Linked DNA regions of Homo sapiens: region 1 is linked to region 2. Evidence: fine-mapped expression QTL. A gene starts in region 2. The other region holds a variant in brackets. All regions are shown on one strand. Distances are from middle to middle. Region 1 has its middle 21 kb from the start of LIPC. Region 2 holds the start of LIPC (lipase C, hepatic type).

What was found.
Region 1: its variant is fine-mapped to the expression of LIPC in whole blood (INTERVAL, PIP above 0.99).

Annotation. Positions count from the first base shown.
Region 1 is chr15:58,406,695-58,415,032 of GRCh38, forward strand. No RefSeq gene overlaps it. Among named protein-coding and RNA genes, the nearest start is that of LIPC, 21 kb to the right of the region's middle. RefSeq lists a silencer at 3,776-4,070. The variant T/A (reference allele first, on the strand shown) is at 4,260.
Region 2 is chr15:58,428,105-58,436,442 of GRCh38, forward strand. LIPC (lipase C, hepatic type) reads left to right here and starts at 3,887. Exons shown (of 9, transcript NM_000236.3): 1 at 3,887-4,016. The coding sequence starts at 3,929. It overlaps LIPC-AS1 (LIPC antisense RNA 1), which reads right to left. Exons shown (of 3, transcript NR_120338.1): 3 at 6,797-8,338. RefSeq lists an enhancer at 1,906-2,200 and a silencer at 1,906-2,200.

The DNA of each region.
Region 1 (8,338 bases), 21 kb before region 2:
ATAATGTATAAAAACCACTGATCAGGACAAGGATCCCTGCTTCATTTAACTTTCCCGTCCTCTCCCTCCACCCTCACTATCCCCACCCCATCTCCTCAGCCTGCACCACGCTCCCCCACGGACTATGAAGAATGCAGACTCACAGGGAGTTTCATAGTGTTTTCTTGCAAAAGTACTGAGTATAGCCAGATTTCTCATGTGGATTTTTCACTGGTTTGTTTCTGTTAGGCAAAACGGAAGGACAAGGGTTGATGGAGAAGGGAGGCACATCTCATACAGCTTCCTCACAGCAGGTCCTAACACTGTCCATTGTGTTTAGAATGAGCCTTTATGTGGCTTTCCATGGGTTTCTGGTGAAAAATCACAACCCTCTCTGAGACGGAGATGCCCCATCACCTGTTCTTTCACTGCATTATTTTCTGTTTCACTGCCTCAAACCAGACTCAGACCTCCAGTGCTCTTTATTTCAATTACTTTTACCTGTTTTATGACATCTATTTGGGTTTAACTTTTGGTTCCTCCACCAAAAAGTCTGAAATTCCAGGTCAGAGTTCTCCAAGGAGCTTATATGTGTTTGCACAAACATGTGGAAATCCTTAGGAACTACCAATTATCAACCACTCAGAACTCAGTGCCTTGGTATTTTTTGCTGTTGTGGAGGCTTGTGTTTACCTTTTATTTTAAGCACTTTCCAGCCCATCCTCTTGAAGCACCTGGCCTTACCAGGGGCCTTGCTCATTTGTTCTTGCTGCCTCCTCCATTCAGAAGACCCATCAATCAGTGTCTGAAACAAGGACCTTCTGTGTAGAATCAAAAGCCACCACATCACAGCTGAAGGCAACAGAATGCAGTGGGCATTGTTGTTTGTACACAGGCCTTCGTCTCTTTCAGAAGTGTCTCTGTTTGAAATGAATGAGGCAGACAAGAGTGTGGCTTCAAAAGCAACTCTCCCCCTCTGGGCTTTGCTTATTGAAAGTCCTGTGAGCACTGTTACTAGAAAGTAAAGAGAATAAAAGGCAAACCTGAGGCAGGCTACAGGTTCCCAGGCAAGGCAGTCACATCCAGCCTCAGCCAGGCAGTACCGCCAGTCATTGGCCTTCACTTTGTCTATTTGAGTTTGCAAGGTTAACATGAAAGAGGCTGTTTATTTTCTCCCAACGATTATGCTTAAAAATTACATGAACTTCCCTCACCGAGACCCTTGCCCAGATGTACAACAGGCTTCTCTCTCTGCCGGTACCTCTTAAGGGTGTCATTGCTGATGGAACTAGAGCTACCTTCACTACTGTTGCCATGGTTACACTTTCTGTACCAGAAAATTGGCTGATCCTTGGCCCAGCTCTCCCACCTGGCTATCATCTCCTCTGCAGCAGGAGGCCTCCTTATTCCCTGATCTATTTTGTGTTTGGCTGGAAGATTGGCGAGCACATAGTTTTCCATGGTACTCATGACCCTTCTGTAAACTCTTAATGACCCTAATGTTGATTAGGACCCAAAGTCTTGGGCCAGTGGAAAAGTTAAAACAAAGTTCAAGACTCATATAGATGATGATCCCAATAATCATCTACATGGCTTGAGAATCATCACCTCCATCTTTTGTCTGCAGAGGGTTTGCAATGAGAGCTAGAGAGTTCAGAGCCAAATATCTGGCCCATCACTGGGAAGTATAAAAGACTGTACAACATATATTTGAAGTGTAATTTCATTTATCAATTCACTATATTTTTCCCATCCTTTTTTCCTACTTAATTTTCCTCTTAATGTCTTGCATTGTTTTTATCTTTTAAAAGTGCTTTAAATTCTTTTGAAGCAAAACTAAATATAAGGAAAACATAGGCATAATCATCAAAAATCCATTGGATTCTTGCTATTATGAGGGGAGGGGGAAAAGTACAAAGGTTTTTCTGTCCAAAAAGAGACAATTCACTTAATGCAAAGTACCTGGAACATATTCTGTGTAAAATCAAATCGAATAATTTTATATATATTTTCTTTTGAAAAAAATACACGATTAGATTCAAGAAAAATTGAATTTCTGGTACAAAGGAGGAATAAGGACATGGCCTTCCTAATCCAAGAAGCTCCATGAATAACTAGGGGCCTGCTTTCTTTCACACAAGAAAGCTGGGTAGTACTTTCAAAAACCTGAGATGGATGGGGCACAGTGGCTCATGCCTGTAATCTCAGTACTTTGGGAGGCTGAGGCGGGCATATCACTTGAGATCAGGAGTTCGAGACCAGCCTGGCAAACATGGTGAAACCCCATCTCTACCAAAAATACAGAAATTAGCCAGGCATCATGGTGCATGCCTGTAGTCCCAGCTACCTGGGAGCCTGAGGCAGGAGAACTGCTTGAACCTGGGAGGTGGAGGTTGCAGTGAGCCAAGATCGCACCACTGCACACTAGCCTGGGAGACAGAGCAAGACTCTGTCTCAAAAAACAAAAACGAAAACACAACCTGAGATGGACCATGTGAGCAGGTGATACCATCAGGGAGTGCTCAGTGTGTTCTAAAAATCGCAGTGTCTGGCACACAGCAAAAGCTTCACAAATATACACCAAATAAACAAGGAAAATAAGTAAAAAACATTATGCCTGCATGCTAAATAAATTCACAGATAATCTTCAAATTAACCTGGGTAGAAATGATTTAGCAATACTGAGAAAAGTGGATGCTATCAAGGGTGTTAGTTATTTTAATCCTCTTGACAACACTTTTAGATATTTTTATCTCCAGTTGTTTTTCAGATGAGATTGAGGAAGATTAAGTAATTTGTGCAAGACCACATAACGAGCAAGTGAAAGACCCAGGACTTGAGCCCAAGGCTTTCTAATTGTAAAAGTAGAATCTATCCCCTCAGTCTACTCCACTGTTGCCCAAGCTAATGTTAAGAACACAAATCCGGCTGGGCACGATGGCTCATGCCTGTAATCTCAGCACTTTGGGAGGCCGAGGTGGGTGGATCACTTGAGATGAGGAGTTTGAGGCCAGCCTGGCCAACATGGTAGAACACCGTCTCTACTAAAAATACAAAAATTAGCCGGGTGTGGTGGTGTGTGTCTGTAGTCCCAGCTAAGCAGGAGGCTGAGGCAGGAAAATCACTTGAACCTAGGAGGTGGAGGTTGCAGTAAGCCAAGATCGCGCCACTGCACTCCAGCCTGGATGACAGAGTGAGACTCTGTCTCAAAAAAACAAACAAACAAACAGAAAAAGAGACCACAAATCTGAGGCCCCATCCCAGACCCACTGAAGCAGAATCTCTAGGGAGGAACTTAGAAACATTTGTGTAACAAGACACCAGATGATGATTATTATCAGAGAAGTTTAAAAAAAAAAAAAAAAAAAAGACACCTCTATTGCATCAGATGGGAAATGGACCTACAGCATCCTCTGAGGGATCAAATAAAAGCCATCAGATTTGAAGTTCATACAAGTAAAAATAAATCAGGTCAGTCTGGAGCATATCAGATTATGATATTATAGACTATTCTTCAGTTTGGTAATATAGAATTGTCTGATTTAAGGTTTTCTGGATCTTAAAATACCAAGAACATTTGAAAAGTTAAAAATGGGTTCCAATTTAAACCTCAGACTTTTTTTTAGCTTTCCTCACTGCCTCTGATCCTGAGGAGCAGAAGTGAATGTGAACGCACTTTGAATTCCTAGCAGCTTTCACTGATGCAGAGGTTCCAGCTGTACAGGGGCTGGAGGACTGCTGAGGAGAACAACAAGCTGAGAATCAGTCCTCATCTCTGGTTGCCCCCCACCCCACCCTCATTGCCTTTCATTGGATGAGCAAGTCACACAATCCAGGAAGTGGAAAATCTATCATCGCTTGGTTGGTTTTTCTTAGTTTCAGTTTTTCCACGCCTGATGAGAATTGCCAAGGCACAGCAAAGCCTGCAGCTTCCATACCCGTCATGAGAGCAAATAACTTATTTGTAAACCTAAGCACTTAATTAACTAAATGGAAAGCAAGGCAGTGAGTGATTCCTGACATGGCCGAATTTAAGTCAAGCTGTGAAGCTCCAGGTGCAGCCAGAAATGGAGATGGACAACTTGAACTGAACCCTGAGAGCTTCTAAAAAGGCTTTGGACCACTGCTTCTCAGCAGTTTTTCTTGTAAGTTATTCCCATTATCTCAAAGAAAAATTTAAAATATGGTTGGAGAAAAGTATAGAACTGATTATCCCCATTTTGAGCATAGATCATCGTTTAACCAACTTGCTTTCTAACTGCCAAGAAACTTGCTTTGGA[T/A]GGTATTTCCAGACATAATGTCTATCATAGCAAATATTGACAATTGCATTTTACAAATAATCAGTTTAATATGCTTTAATATGCTTCTATTTCTGATTGCTCTTGATCTCATTTAATCTTCGAAGCAACTCTATCACGTTGGTGTGCTTATTAACATTATTTTACAGATAAAGACGCCTGTAAGTAGCTTCCTCACAGGGTATTTAAGGAACTTGTAGAAAGTCCACAGCTAGTAGCTGGGAGCCCATCTCATATCAATACACTAGCTTCTCCCCAAAGAACTTTATATATTTAGGCCATTGATTTCTTTTTTTTTTTTTTTGAGACGGAGTCTCACTCTGTCACCCAGGCTGGAGTGCAGTGGCAACATCTCGGCTCACTGCCACAGCTCCACCTCCCGGGTTCACGCCATTCTCCTGCCTCAGCCTCCCGAGTAGCTGGGACTACAGGCACCCGCCACCAGGCCCGGCTAATTTTTTGTATTTTTAGTAGAGACGGGGTTTTATCGTGTTAGCCAGGATGGTCTTGATCTCCTGACATTGTGATCCGCCCACCTCGGCCTCCCAAAGTGCTGGGATTACAGGCGTGAGCCACCGCGCCCGGCCTTAGGCCATTGATTTCTAAAAAGACAAATTCTCATATTGGATTAAAACATAAGACCCAACAATACGTATGTTGCTTAAAAATAGGAATCTGTTACCCAAAAAATGCAGAAATGCTAAAATAAAAAGGTTTAATGAGGAAACTCATACGACAAAAAGAAAATAGTTGGTAAAGTTGATAGCATATAAAAGAGATTTTGAAGCCAAAAACACAGGGAGAGGATACAAAGAAGCTCCTGATTATGATAAAAAATAGAAAATCAACTGTGAAGACAGAGGTTACTAAAGTCAGAAATGCAAAGAGAAATAGAATAAAAAACAAGCAATTGTAAAGGGAGAGTTTAATTCATTTCAAGGCTAAGAAAAAAATAGACAAGAGTAAAAAATAAAGACAAATTTAAATAGACAAAAATTTAGAAGACATTGAAGACGTGACAAAAATAGACAATAGAGGTTATGTTATACAATTGATAAGTTAGAACCAATAGACATACACTGAACTCAATACCAACATAGATTACACATTTTTTTCCATATGGGGGCATTGGTACATATATACTAACTCTCAAATAAGGCCCTAAAAATTGAATCAAGAGGAAAAAATATACATATTTTCTCACCACATGCAATAAAGCTAAATGTGAATAAGTAAAAGCAATGAAAGGAGCCTTGGGCAAAAGAATAATCTAACCAAGAGCCTTTGCAGCAAACAGTTCGGGGTTTAGATTATAAACTACATTCCTTACTGCAGTGTGACCTGGGCAGTTTACTGAACCTCTCTGAACCTTGGATTCCTCATCTAAAAATGAGGCTCTACCTTGCAAAGTTGTTATGAAGATTACCTATAAGTATGTCAAATAAACTAAGACTTAAAAGAGAGTTAAAACCGTAAGCCGTACAATATAACTCCATTTTTAATGTACTCATATTTAACTAGAAAAAGTATCTAGAGTTTTTGTCGATTGAAAGCAAAAGTCTATAAAATATTCATCTAAATACTAACAGTGGTTATCTCTGTGCACTGATATTTCTGCCAATTTTTGTTATATTGCTTTATCTTTTCTACTATGAATATATAGTATGTGAATAATAAAAAATAGTAAATTTGAAAATAAACATGAACTTCTGAAAAACAGAGTACAAGAAGAAAATAAATATTTACTCTTGGGTGGCCTACAGATGGTGGTTGCGGTAGGCATACAGCCATCTCAGTTTCTTGTCTGTCATTGTAAATTCTAAAATACCCTCAATTTCTGTCTTTCTACATATATACACGTATACGCACACACATATATAAAACACACATATATTTTATATTTATATATGTTTTATATATATGTTTTTAATATATGTTTTATATATATTAAAAAACACAATATTGGGATAACTGACAATTTGAATGTGGATGGTGGGATTAATCATATGGTATCATGAAATTTCCTGATTTTACTGTTAAATTTCTTGAATTTTATAAAAGAAAATATTTGTGTCCAGAAATATATATTGAAGTATTTAGATATATATGTATGTATGCAGCTTACTCTCAAATTGTTCAGAAAAACATTCACATATCCATAAAGACAGAGTGAATGATAACTAGGGAAAAATACAAACCAACAGTGCACCTAGGTAAAGGGTGTATAGGAGTTCATACTAGTCTTTTAACATTTCTGTAAGTTTAAAATTATATTAAAATATTAATAAAAAATTACAGCAGCAACAAATTAATGGGTATCAATGTCTAACAACCACAAAAACTTTCCTAAACTACAAGTTCAAGTAGAACAGGGGTCTCCAACCCCCAGTACCAGTGTGTGGCCTGTTAGGAACCTGGCCACACAGCAGGAGGTGAGCAGCAGAGCTTTATCTGTATTTACAGTCGCTACGCATCAGTCACATTCACACTAAACTCCGCCTCCTGTCAGATCAGCAGTGGCATTAGATTCTCATAGGACCACAAACCCTATTGTGAACTGTGCCTGTGAGGAATCTAGATTGCATGGTCCTTATGAGAATCTAATGCCTGATGATCTGTCACTGTCTCCCATCACCCCCAAACAGGACCATCTAGTTTCAGGCAAACAATCTCAGGCCTCCCACTTATTCTACATTACGGTGAGTAGATTATAGTTATATCATTATTTCATTATATATTAACAATGTAATAATAATGGAAATAAAGTACACAATAAATGCAATATGCTCAAATCATTCTGAAACCATCACGCATCCACCCCCATTCATGGAAAAACTGTCTCCCACAAAACTGGTCCCTGGTGCCAAAAATGTTAGGGACCAGTGAAGTAGATAATTAAGAACATGATAACAACTTTTGAGATGTTTATAAAATTGAAAACACCCCATATCAAAAGGGAGGGGGCTTTGTATAAATCAGAGCCCAGAAGTTAAGGCGTAAATCTATGTGCTTTTATTTTAGAAATATGAAATAAACATTTGACTTAAAATCTTATGAAGACAGTCAATATAAAGGAAAATAGATAATAATAAAGAGTAAGGACAGAAATAAACTAGAAAAGAGGAAATCAGTGGAAATAATACATAAATTTAGATGCTCATTCTGTGAGAAGATTATAAGATAGATCAATCCCTTGGAAATACAATAAATAAAAGAAAAGGTATAAATCAACAAAATTAAAAACAAGGCTAGTGATTTAACAACCGATACAAAAGATTTTAAAATATAAATGATTGCAATGCAAAATTTATGATAATCAACTTGAAATGCTTAGCCAAATGGACAACACAAAATATTAACTGGCAAGAGAAAATGTAGATAACATGAAAATAATGATGAAGGCAAAGGAAACTGAAAAGCTGTTATTTAAAAAAATCTCATCTACCACAAGAAATATTATGACCTCAACAAATTTACTGAACAATATTACTACATACTCAAGAAACAGATTTTTCTGTATTATGTAATCAGTTCCAAATCACAGAAAAACAAGATCTGATACCCAATTCATTCTAAGAGATGAGTATTATCCCCATCCACAAACCTGTGAGAAATACCACACAGGCGCACACACACATAAACACACGGTCTTAGGATGGCAAATGTGCACAAGTGCCAATTCCTATAAAACTGGCTCGAAATGATTAGAACCAGGCTCAAAGATATTAGCAGATTTTCCCAAAACAGCTGCTGAATAAGTGAATATATGAATACACAGATGAAGAAAATAATGCAGGCAATTAGCAACATCTACTAAAGACCTAAAAGGCAGGAATGGCTTGTGCATACTGTCTATTTGCTAAATTTTATTGATCAATAAATTTTATCTATCCATGGGTTACTCAAGGAGCATAGGCAGAAAAATCATTTTTAACTGAGCTTATAAAATACAGCTATAAATTAAAACAATAGCATGTAGCCACTAATTAAGGTAAATTCTACTGATGCCAGAAGATTATAACAAATCACAGAATATCTTTTGTAAAGGAATTACTATTTGG
Region 2 (8,338 bases):
TTTTCAGGCCTTCTGGATTTCTTCTCCCCACCCCACCCCCAACCCCAGTAGTTATGCCATAGTTCTGGACAAATACAATAGCCAGGCATGGGGTCAGGGGAGTGTGACCTAGTCCTCTGTCATCAGTCCACATTGGTGGCCACTGAGGGGCCCATCCTCCCATCAACATGACCTGCTGGCCCCAGAGACTCACTGCTCTCCCACCCTACATCAAGCCAGGTATATCTTTTGCCCATGTGCCAACACAGCCATTTCCTCCCTGGGTTCTTCTCTTCCAGCAGGATTTCTGGGAAGCAAGGTACTGTCCCCTCTGCTCTCAGACCCATAGACAAACCTCCCCCTTCCACACCACCTGCAAAGCCCAAGAGAATGTCTTTCTAGTGATGGCAAGGTGAGGGGTTCCTTCTCCCTTCACATCCCCTCAAGAAATGTTAGTCTTTTGCTTTTCTTTGTTGGCTAGAATTCACCTGCCCACACTTTGGGAGGCCAAGGCAGGAGGATCACTTGAGCCCAGGAGTTTATGGCCAGCCTGGGCAACATAGGAAGACCCTGTCTCTAAAATAAATAAAATAAAATAATATAAAATAAAATAAAATTCACTTGCCCTAAGGTCCTATATTTTTGGAAGACAAAAGATTTGTAGCCTTCTCTCTACTTTGCCCCTCTTAAGTGGAAGGGAGACAGTTTGGGAGAAAAATAAGTTGATATCTCAAAATATTATCTCAGATACATGTTGTCCCCATTTTATAGGTGAGGAGATTGAACTCATTAAGGTTATATAATATTATATACAGCAAGTAGATAGGCCTAGGACCCCCCCAGTTCAGGAAATCTCATACTCTGTGAAGTCCTCCCCTCTTCCCTGCCAGTAGCCTCCCTGGTCAGCTTCAAGAAAACACAACAGAGCTTGTGCATTAAAACCACCACTGGAAGGTCAGACCCGGTGATGGGGCAGGCTGGAAGAGCTTAGGTAGAGGTGAAAGCAGACAACACCCTGAAAGGGGACAGGTACCCACTCCTCCTTGTCATTTTCCAGGAGAGCCTTATAGAATTTGAGTTGGCATGAGATGATGTTAGAGGAATTTGGGGTGGTGCAAGTAAAGGAACTACAAGAGCTAGAAACAATCTTGAAGGCTTCTTCCCATGTTGAAAGTGTTCTTACCACGTAGAAAGTGGTAAGAAAGTGTACTCTGCAGAAATTTGGGGGGCGGGTGGGGGCACACGGTTGGTATTTCAGAGGCACTTGGATTCACTGGTGTCTTTTGATGAGTTTGTGTCCCGAATAAAATGGGGAGTGGCGGTGGTTACTGGCAGTACCCAGAGGAGAGGAGATGAGGGTGGGCACAGGGGAGAGGAGCCCGAGATGGGTAGCCAGCTGGTCTTACGTGCCAGCTTTATAGGAAAAAAAGTGGAACTTTCAGATTCTGCTTAACTGTGCAGGAGCCAGCCAAGTATCCAAGGCAGAAGTCCTTGCTCAGAAATTGTATATCTGATGGGCACGGTGACTCACGCCTGTAATCCCAGCACTTTGGGAGGCCGAGGTGGGTGGATCACAAGGTCAGGAGTTAGAGACCAGCCTGACCAACATGGTAAAACCCCGTCTCTACTAAAAATACAAAAATTAGCCAGGCATGGTGGTGGGCACCTGTAGTCCCACCTACTCTGAAGGCTGAAGCACTAGAATCGCTTGAACCTGGGAGGTGGAAGTTGCAGTGAACCGAGATCGCGCCACTGCACTCCAGCCTGGGCGACAGAGCAAGATTCCATCTCAAAAAAAAAAAAGAAAAAGAAAAAGAAATTGTATATCTGACGGGATGGTCCGCAAGCTTCGGGGCTTGGGAGGAAGGTACAGTCATAGGACAGAACACAGCTTTAGACTGGGTCAAGATCGTCCAAGTCTGGTGGTGGCTTCAGAAGGCCCTTTGAATGAGGCTCGTCCAGGCAATAATTACCATGTTATCTAATTTTGCCCGCTTAACGTTTCCACTTGGATGTCTAAGAGCCATCTCAAAGCCCCACGTGGCCAAGGCTGAATCTCTAATCTTCCCCCAACAGACCTGCTTCACTCACAGCTTCCCCTTCTCAGCTGACAGCAACCCCATTAATCTGCTTGTTCAAGCCAAAAAACCTGGAAGTCATCCTTAACTCCTCTCTTTCTCCCACATCTCACAACTCAGCAGTCAGAAAATCCTGTGGGCTCTACCTTCAAAATATATCCACCACCCATCCACCACTCCGCAGTTGCCCTTTACCATGCTGGGCCACGCCACCATCACCTCTCACTGGGCCACTGTAATAGCCTTCTAACAGATCTCCCCACTGCACCCTGGCTCACTTGCAAACCAGAGTGATATTTTAAAACTATAATACAAATCATATCACCCTTCTGCTCAGAGTCGCCCCCCATGTGTCAATGCATAAAAGTCAAAGTCCTTACAATGTCTCCCCATTCATTGGCCTCCTTGCTATTCCTGGAGCACACCAGGCATACTCCTACCTCAGGGCCTTTGCACAGACTGCCCGAAGCTCTCCTCCCCAAGACGTCCACAGGGGCAACTCCTTCACTTCCTTCAAACCTTTGCTGAAAGTTTAACTTCCCAATGCAATTCACTCTAACCACTCTGCTTAAAATCCCTACCTTCTCCCCAACCCCCTGCTTTTCTTGTAGTGGTTCCCATTACATTCTACCAGTCTACCTAATTTTTTTTTTTTTTTTTTTGAGACGGAGTCTCTCTGTGTCGCCCAGGCTGGAGTACAATGGCGCGATCTCAGTTCACTGCAACCTCCGCCTCCCAGGTTCAAGCGATTCTCCTGCCTCAGCTTCCTGAGTAGCTGGGATTACAGGCACTCACCTCCACGCCCAGCTAACTTTTGTATTTTTAGTACAGATGGGGTTTCACCATGTTGGTCAGGCTGGTCTCGAACTCCTGACCTCGTGATCCGCCCTCCTCGCCTCCCAAAGTGCTGTGATTACAGGAGTGAGCCACCGCTCCTGGCCAGAAATCTCTTCTTTATTATGTCTACTGTCCGTTATCCAACTCCAGAAGGTAAGAACCTCCACTGATACATAAGGACTTGTATACCCCACGTGCCTGCAACAGTGCTTGGCACCTAGTAGGCATACCAAAATATATAAATGTTGAACAAATGAAGAAAGTTAAAGTAAAACTAGAGGTCCAAAAATATCACAAAAGCCATCTATGGTCGCCTTTTCCCTACCTGATTTTGCTGAGTGGCCTTACTTTTCAGTCCTCTACACAGCTGGAACATTAATGAACACAGAGGGGGAAGAAGTGTGTTTACTCTAGGATCACCTCTCAATGGGTCACTTGGCAAGGGCATCTTTGCTTCTTCGTCAGCTCCTTTTGACACGGGGGTGAAGGGTTTTCTGCACCACACTTTGACCACAAGCATCACCAATTTCACTGAACCCAACAGAAATTTGGACCCTCTGGGGGCTCTCTGCGTGGCAGGGCCCTTTTCTTTTTCTTTGGGCTTAGGCTGCAATTTGAAACACCACTTTCCTGAGCCAGCATCCCCCTTGCAGCGCTGTCACAGGGAGGCTTAGGCAGCCACGTGGAAGCCACCTACCCCGACCTTTGGCAGAATTTCCAAACACAACACAGTAGCTTTAAGTTGATTAATTTGGAACTCTGACCTTGGCCCCAAAAGGTAAGAATACATAACAAGGTATTTTATTCTCAAAATGTGTCAGGATAAGAAGCACTTCTGTAAATCGACCTTTTTAAAATAGATATAATTAGATTTGCAGTTGGGGGCAGTAAAGAAAGGGTCTGAACAGTGGATAACATGTTGAGAGGTTAATTATTAATGGGCAGTCTTCCCTAACAAAGTATCTAATAGGCATTGTGGTCTCTTTGGCTTCAGAAATTACCAAGAAAGCCTGGACCCCGGGTGAAACGGAGAAATGGACACAAGTCCCCTGTGTTTCTCCATTCTGTTGGTTTTATGCATCTTTATCCAATCAAGTGCCCTTGGACAAAGCCTGAAACCAGGTAAGAGCCTGACTTTTCTCCAGAGATGGGCATGAACTTTTCTTTTTAAAACGTGTGTCACAAAGAATCCAGGGGTTTCTGACTGTATGGGACAGAGCTTGCTTCAGAGCGTGCCAGGTGGTTCTATACACGACCTCACAGGTTCACAGGGACACGTAGCCGTTTGTAAACAGAAATGAAATTTTAGAAAATCATCCTCGGATTAAAAGTCTTCTAAGAGTGCCTGCAGCTAGCAGTGAAGTCTCTTGCGTATCTGATATGGAAACAGTCATGCTAAAAGTTATTCAGCGGCAAATGATATGAAAGCGATTCAGATCTTCCTGAGAGTTAATGTGGCATCTAATTTGCAACCGGGGAGCCAGGCTTGCAATGAAATGCTCTGTCGGGTTGGGGTTGTCTAATTGCCTGCCTCTCTCAGAAGAGAGGGGAATTTATGAGAGTTCTATTTCCAGTCAGGTCTAAAGTAGAGATATCATTGCACAATTTCTAGACTTTGTTTTGCTGCCAAAATTTTAGTCTGAGGCTGAAGAATCCAACAGCCGTCCTGCCTGTTTTGTTTGTAAATTCACAAACTAGATTGATGGCGAAAGACAGATCAAATGCCTTATCAGGAAGGTAGTAGAGTGGAGCCCAGCTTCCAGGCTAAGCAGTGGACCAATAAATGACGGATCAGTTAATTGAACAATTTGGCCAGACTAGACAGGTGTTTGGGAATTTGTTTTGGTACTGGTTACTGGTCAGGAGCTAGTAACGCTAAGGTAGAGTCTGAGATTTTTCTTTTCTCTAAGACTAGCCTTGGAGAGAGCTCCGACAACTTTGAGAATTAGAAATTCCCTAACGGGATGTACCTAAAAATTTCAGAAGCTTTTTTCCCCTTTAAGAAAAAGGCTGTTCCTTTGTATTTGACTATTTTACTTCATAGGCCAGTTAATAACTGAGTAGCAGTATTAATTATTGCCATTCACTAAGTATTTTCTGTGCCAAGCACTATACTAATTATTTTTGACACATCATCTCATTTATAAAGCCACATCCAAAAATGACCCTTACATAATAATTTAGAGCCATACAGGTAAAATTGCTGGTAATCTTTATTCCCTTGGTTCATAGTGATTTTGCTAAAGGGCCTTTCCTGCCCTTTGCCCCGGAATGTTGTATTTGTTTGTTTACTTTTTAATGAAGTTTATAACACACTTCTAGAAAAGGGCCTCTATCATAAATCCTCAATGAGTTCTCACAAACTGAACCAGTACCCCAAAGCCTTCCTTGTGTGCCCCTTGAGCCTTAACATATATGATTTTTTCCTTTGGGGAGATTTTTCATTAATAGAAACACATCAGTTGCTCTTTTGCGTCTGGCTTCTTTCGTTCGACATTATGTTTGTGAAAGTCAACCATGCAGTTTCGTGGAGTTGAGGCTCATTCATTCTCACTGCTGTAGCATTCCACTGCGGGACCATGCCACACTTCCTTTATCCATTCTACTGTGGATTGGCCAGGACTGTTTTTGCAATGGAGCCATGGGAATTGGAAGCTGTCAGTGCTGAGATAGAGGTTGAAGGGAGGGATGGCCTCCCCCAGGCTTCTGGGTATTGTCCAGATTTTCCTTGAGCAATCTCATTGTCCTGATCAGCCTGCTTCTTTCCCCGGGGCCTAGTTTGTGCAAATGCTGAGAGAAGTGGCCACTATTAGCAAGAGGGTTCCTCAGAAAAGAGGATCCAAGTCAGGAGGCCTCTTGTTCTCTTGGAAGCAGAATCTCTTGGCAGAATTCTTTCTGCAATGAGTGAGCCCAATCTGTGTGCATGTGGCTGGTATGATGTCTTTCTGGGGAAACCGCAGGGAAGCCGGTGTCCTGTGGTGGAGCCCTTGTCAGGAAAGTTTCTACACCAATGGTTCTCAACAGGGGCAATTTTGCCCTCCAGGGGACACTTGGCAATGTCTGGAGACATTTTTGGTTTTTGGTTGTTAAGACCAGGGAGAGAGTGCTTCCCTTCCAGCATCTAGTGGGTAGAGGCCAGGGAAGCTGCTTCACATCCTACAATGCACAGGACAGCCCTCACAACAATGAATTGTCTGGCCCAAAACATTATTAGTGCAGAGGCTGAGAAACCATGATCTATGCCAAGCTTCAACTGTCACTCATCGAGCACCAGGAAGTACTCCCTCAAGGACCCTTCCTCTTTAGCCCCTCCTCCCAGCCTACTTCTTTTGAGTATTTATTATTAATGACATCTTACTAATGGAGTCACTAATGTGCTGCACACCCAGCATGTGCCAGGCACTCCACGGACATTTTATCTCATCCTCACCATATGGTTGAGTAAGCTGGCAGTTAAGTGCCTTGCCGGCGGTCGCATAGCTGGTCAGGGCAGAGCAGGGAGAGGTACCTGCAGCCTCAATCTGTCTACTGAGGCCGCAGTGCTCTGTGTCGAGCCCACACCCAGTGATTTGACAGCCAGAGGTTTCTAGAAAAACATTCTGCTCAGTTCCTCTCACAGAGAGGGAGATTTAGACAGTTGTTCCTGCCCTTCAGCACTAAGGGGGACTGGATAGCGTGAGCTGCTTGAAGCCCACATGGCACATCACACTTATGCCCAGCCCCAATGCCTGAGACCCAGGTTCCCCAGTCGGTGTTGCCATGAGAGCCAACGCTGCTCCTAGACCCTGGCAAGTCCCACCTTCCCGGTACTGGGCCCACTATCAACAGGCACCTTCTCCCTCCCCTCCACCCCAGCCTCAGCTTGCAAATCCTAGGAGCAGCTGAAAGCTACCTATTCAGTCAGTCCCTCATGAGTGTCACAAGCATACATGAGCACCTGCCATACGTAACGCAGTGCCTGAGTACAACTCACACACTCTGTTCACACGTTTCCTCTCTTAAAAATCACTGAGGACCCCAAACAGTGTTTATTATGTGAGATATCAATATTTCCTTCATTAGAAATTAAAACTGAGAAATCTTTAAAATCTGCTAACACTTTTTAAAATGATAATAAACCCTTGCATATTAACACATATAATGTAATTTTATGAAAAATAACTTGTATTTTCCAAATAAGTTTTAAATGGAGAAGAGTGACATTGTTTTACAAAGAAATGTTGCAAATCTCTCTAATATCTGGCTTCCCAAGACAGCTGGATTATCTTACCTGTTTCTGTACTCAGTCTGTTGTGATGTATTGCTTTGTTTGAAATGTAGGAAGAAAATCTGGCCTCCCATAGAGGAAAAGGGAGGACATCCTAAGGCGATCTCCCTGGGGCCTTGGCCTGCAAACCACTGCGCTTGTGCAGTGGGCACTGTACAACAGGGGGCTGCACAGCCGTCCCCACCTTGCAGGAATTTACAGTCAAATGGGGTGGGAGTGGGGTGGGGAGGGAATAGGGGGCCATGGGACTGGGTGGAGGGGGGATGTGCCATCAATAAAAGAGCAACCGTCTGTGGAGAATTTAAATACAAATATAACCAAAAGCTGATCTGCCTGTCATTATCACAATTATAAAGAATGTCAGCCGGGCGCCGTGGCTCACGCCTGTAATCCCAGCACTTTGGGAGGCCGAGGTGGGTGGATCACCTGAGGTTAGGAGTTCAAAACCAGCCTGGCCAACATGGTAAAATGCCATCTCTACTAAAAATACAAAACATTAGCCAGGCTTGGTCATGGGCACCTGTAATCCCAGCTACTTGGTACGCTGAGGCAGGAGAATTGCTTGAACCCGGGAGGCAGAGGTTGCAATGAGCCGAGATGGCGCCGTCGCACTCCATCCTGGGCAACAAAGTGAAACTCCATCCCAAAAGAAAGAGTATCAGCGATAAAGGCAAAGCTCTTTCCAGAAAAAAATGGTTTTATGGCCTAAGTTCTAAACAATCTCCGTGGTTACTGTTGGATTTTATGTAGTAAGTATATGTAAGCTTCAAATTCATCACATCTTTATTATTTATCCTTTCATAAATATTGTGTTCTACATTGACATTAATCTGGAGAACTCCCGGTTATGCACTTGGCCCCAACATGCACAGACTCAGGGGCGTGTTCTTGTTGCAAGAGTAAGTGTGCGATGGTTCAGATCCTTTGACGTCCTTATGTCTCCAACCTCAGTGGCACTTATTACCTGCTTCTGCATGTAAACAGTAGATTTGAAACAAAAAATGATAGCGTAGTGGTTGTACAAACAAAAAACCAGAACTTGAATTATTTCAATTCTCTCATCCTAGGTGACCCCTGTAAGCTTCTCATATGTGTTTAAAATTTAAAGCAACAAAACAGATTGTGAACAATGAGTTGTAACATCTTGTTTGATAGGTAAAAATTTGGACTCATACGA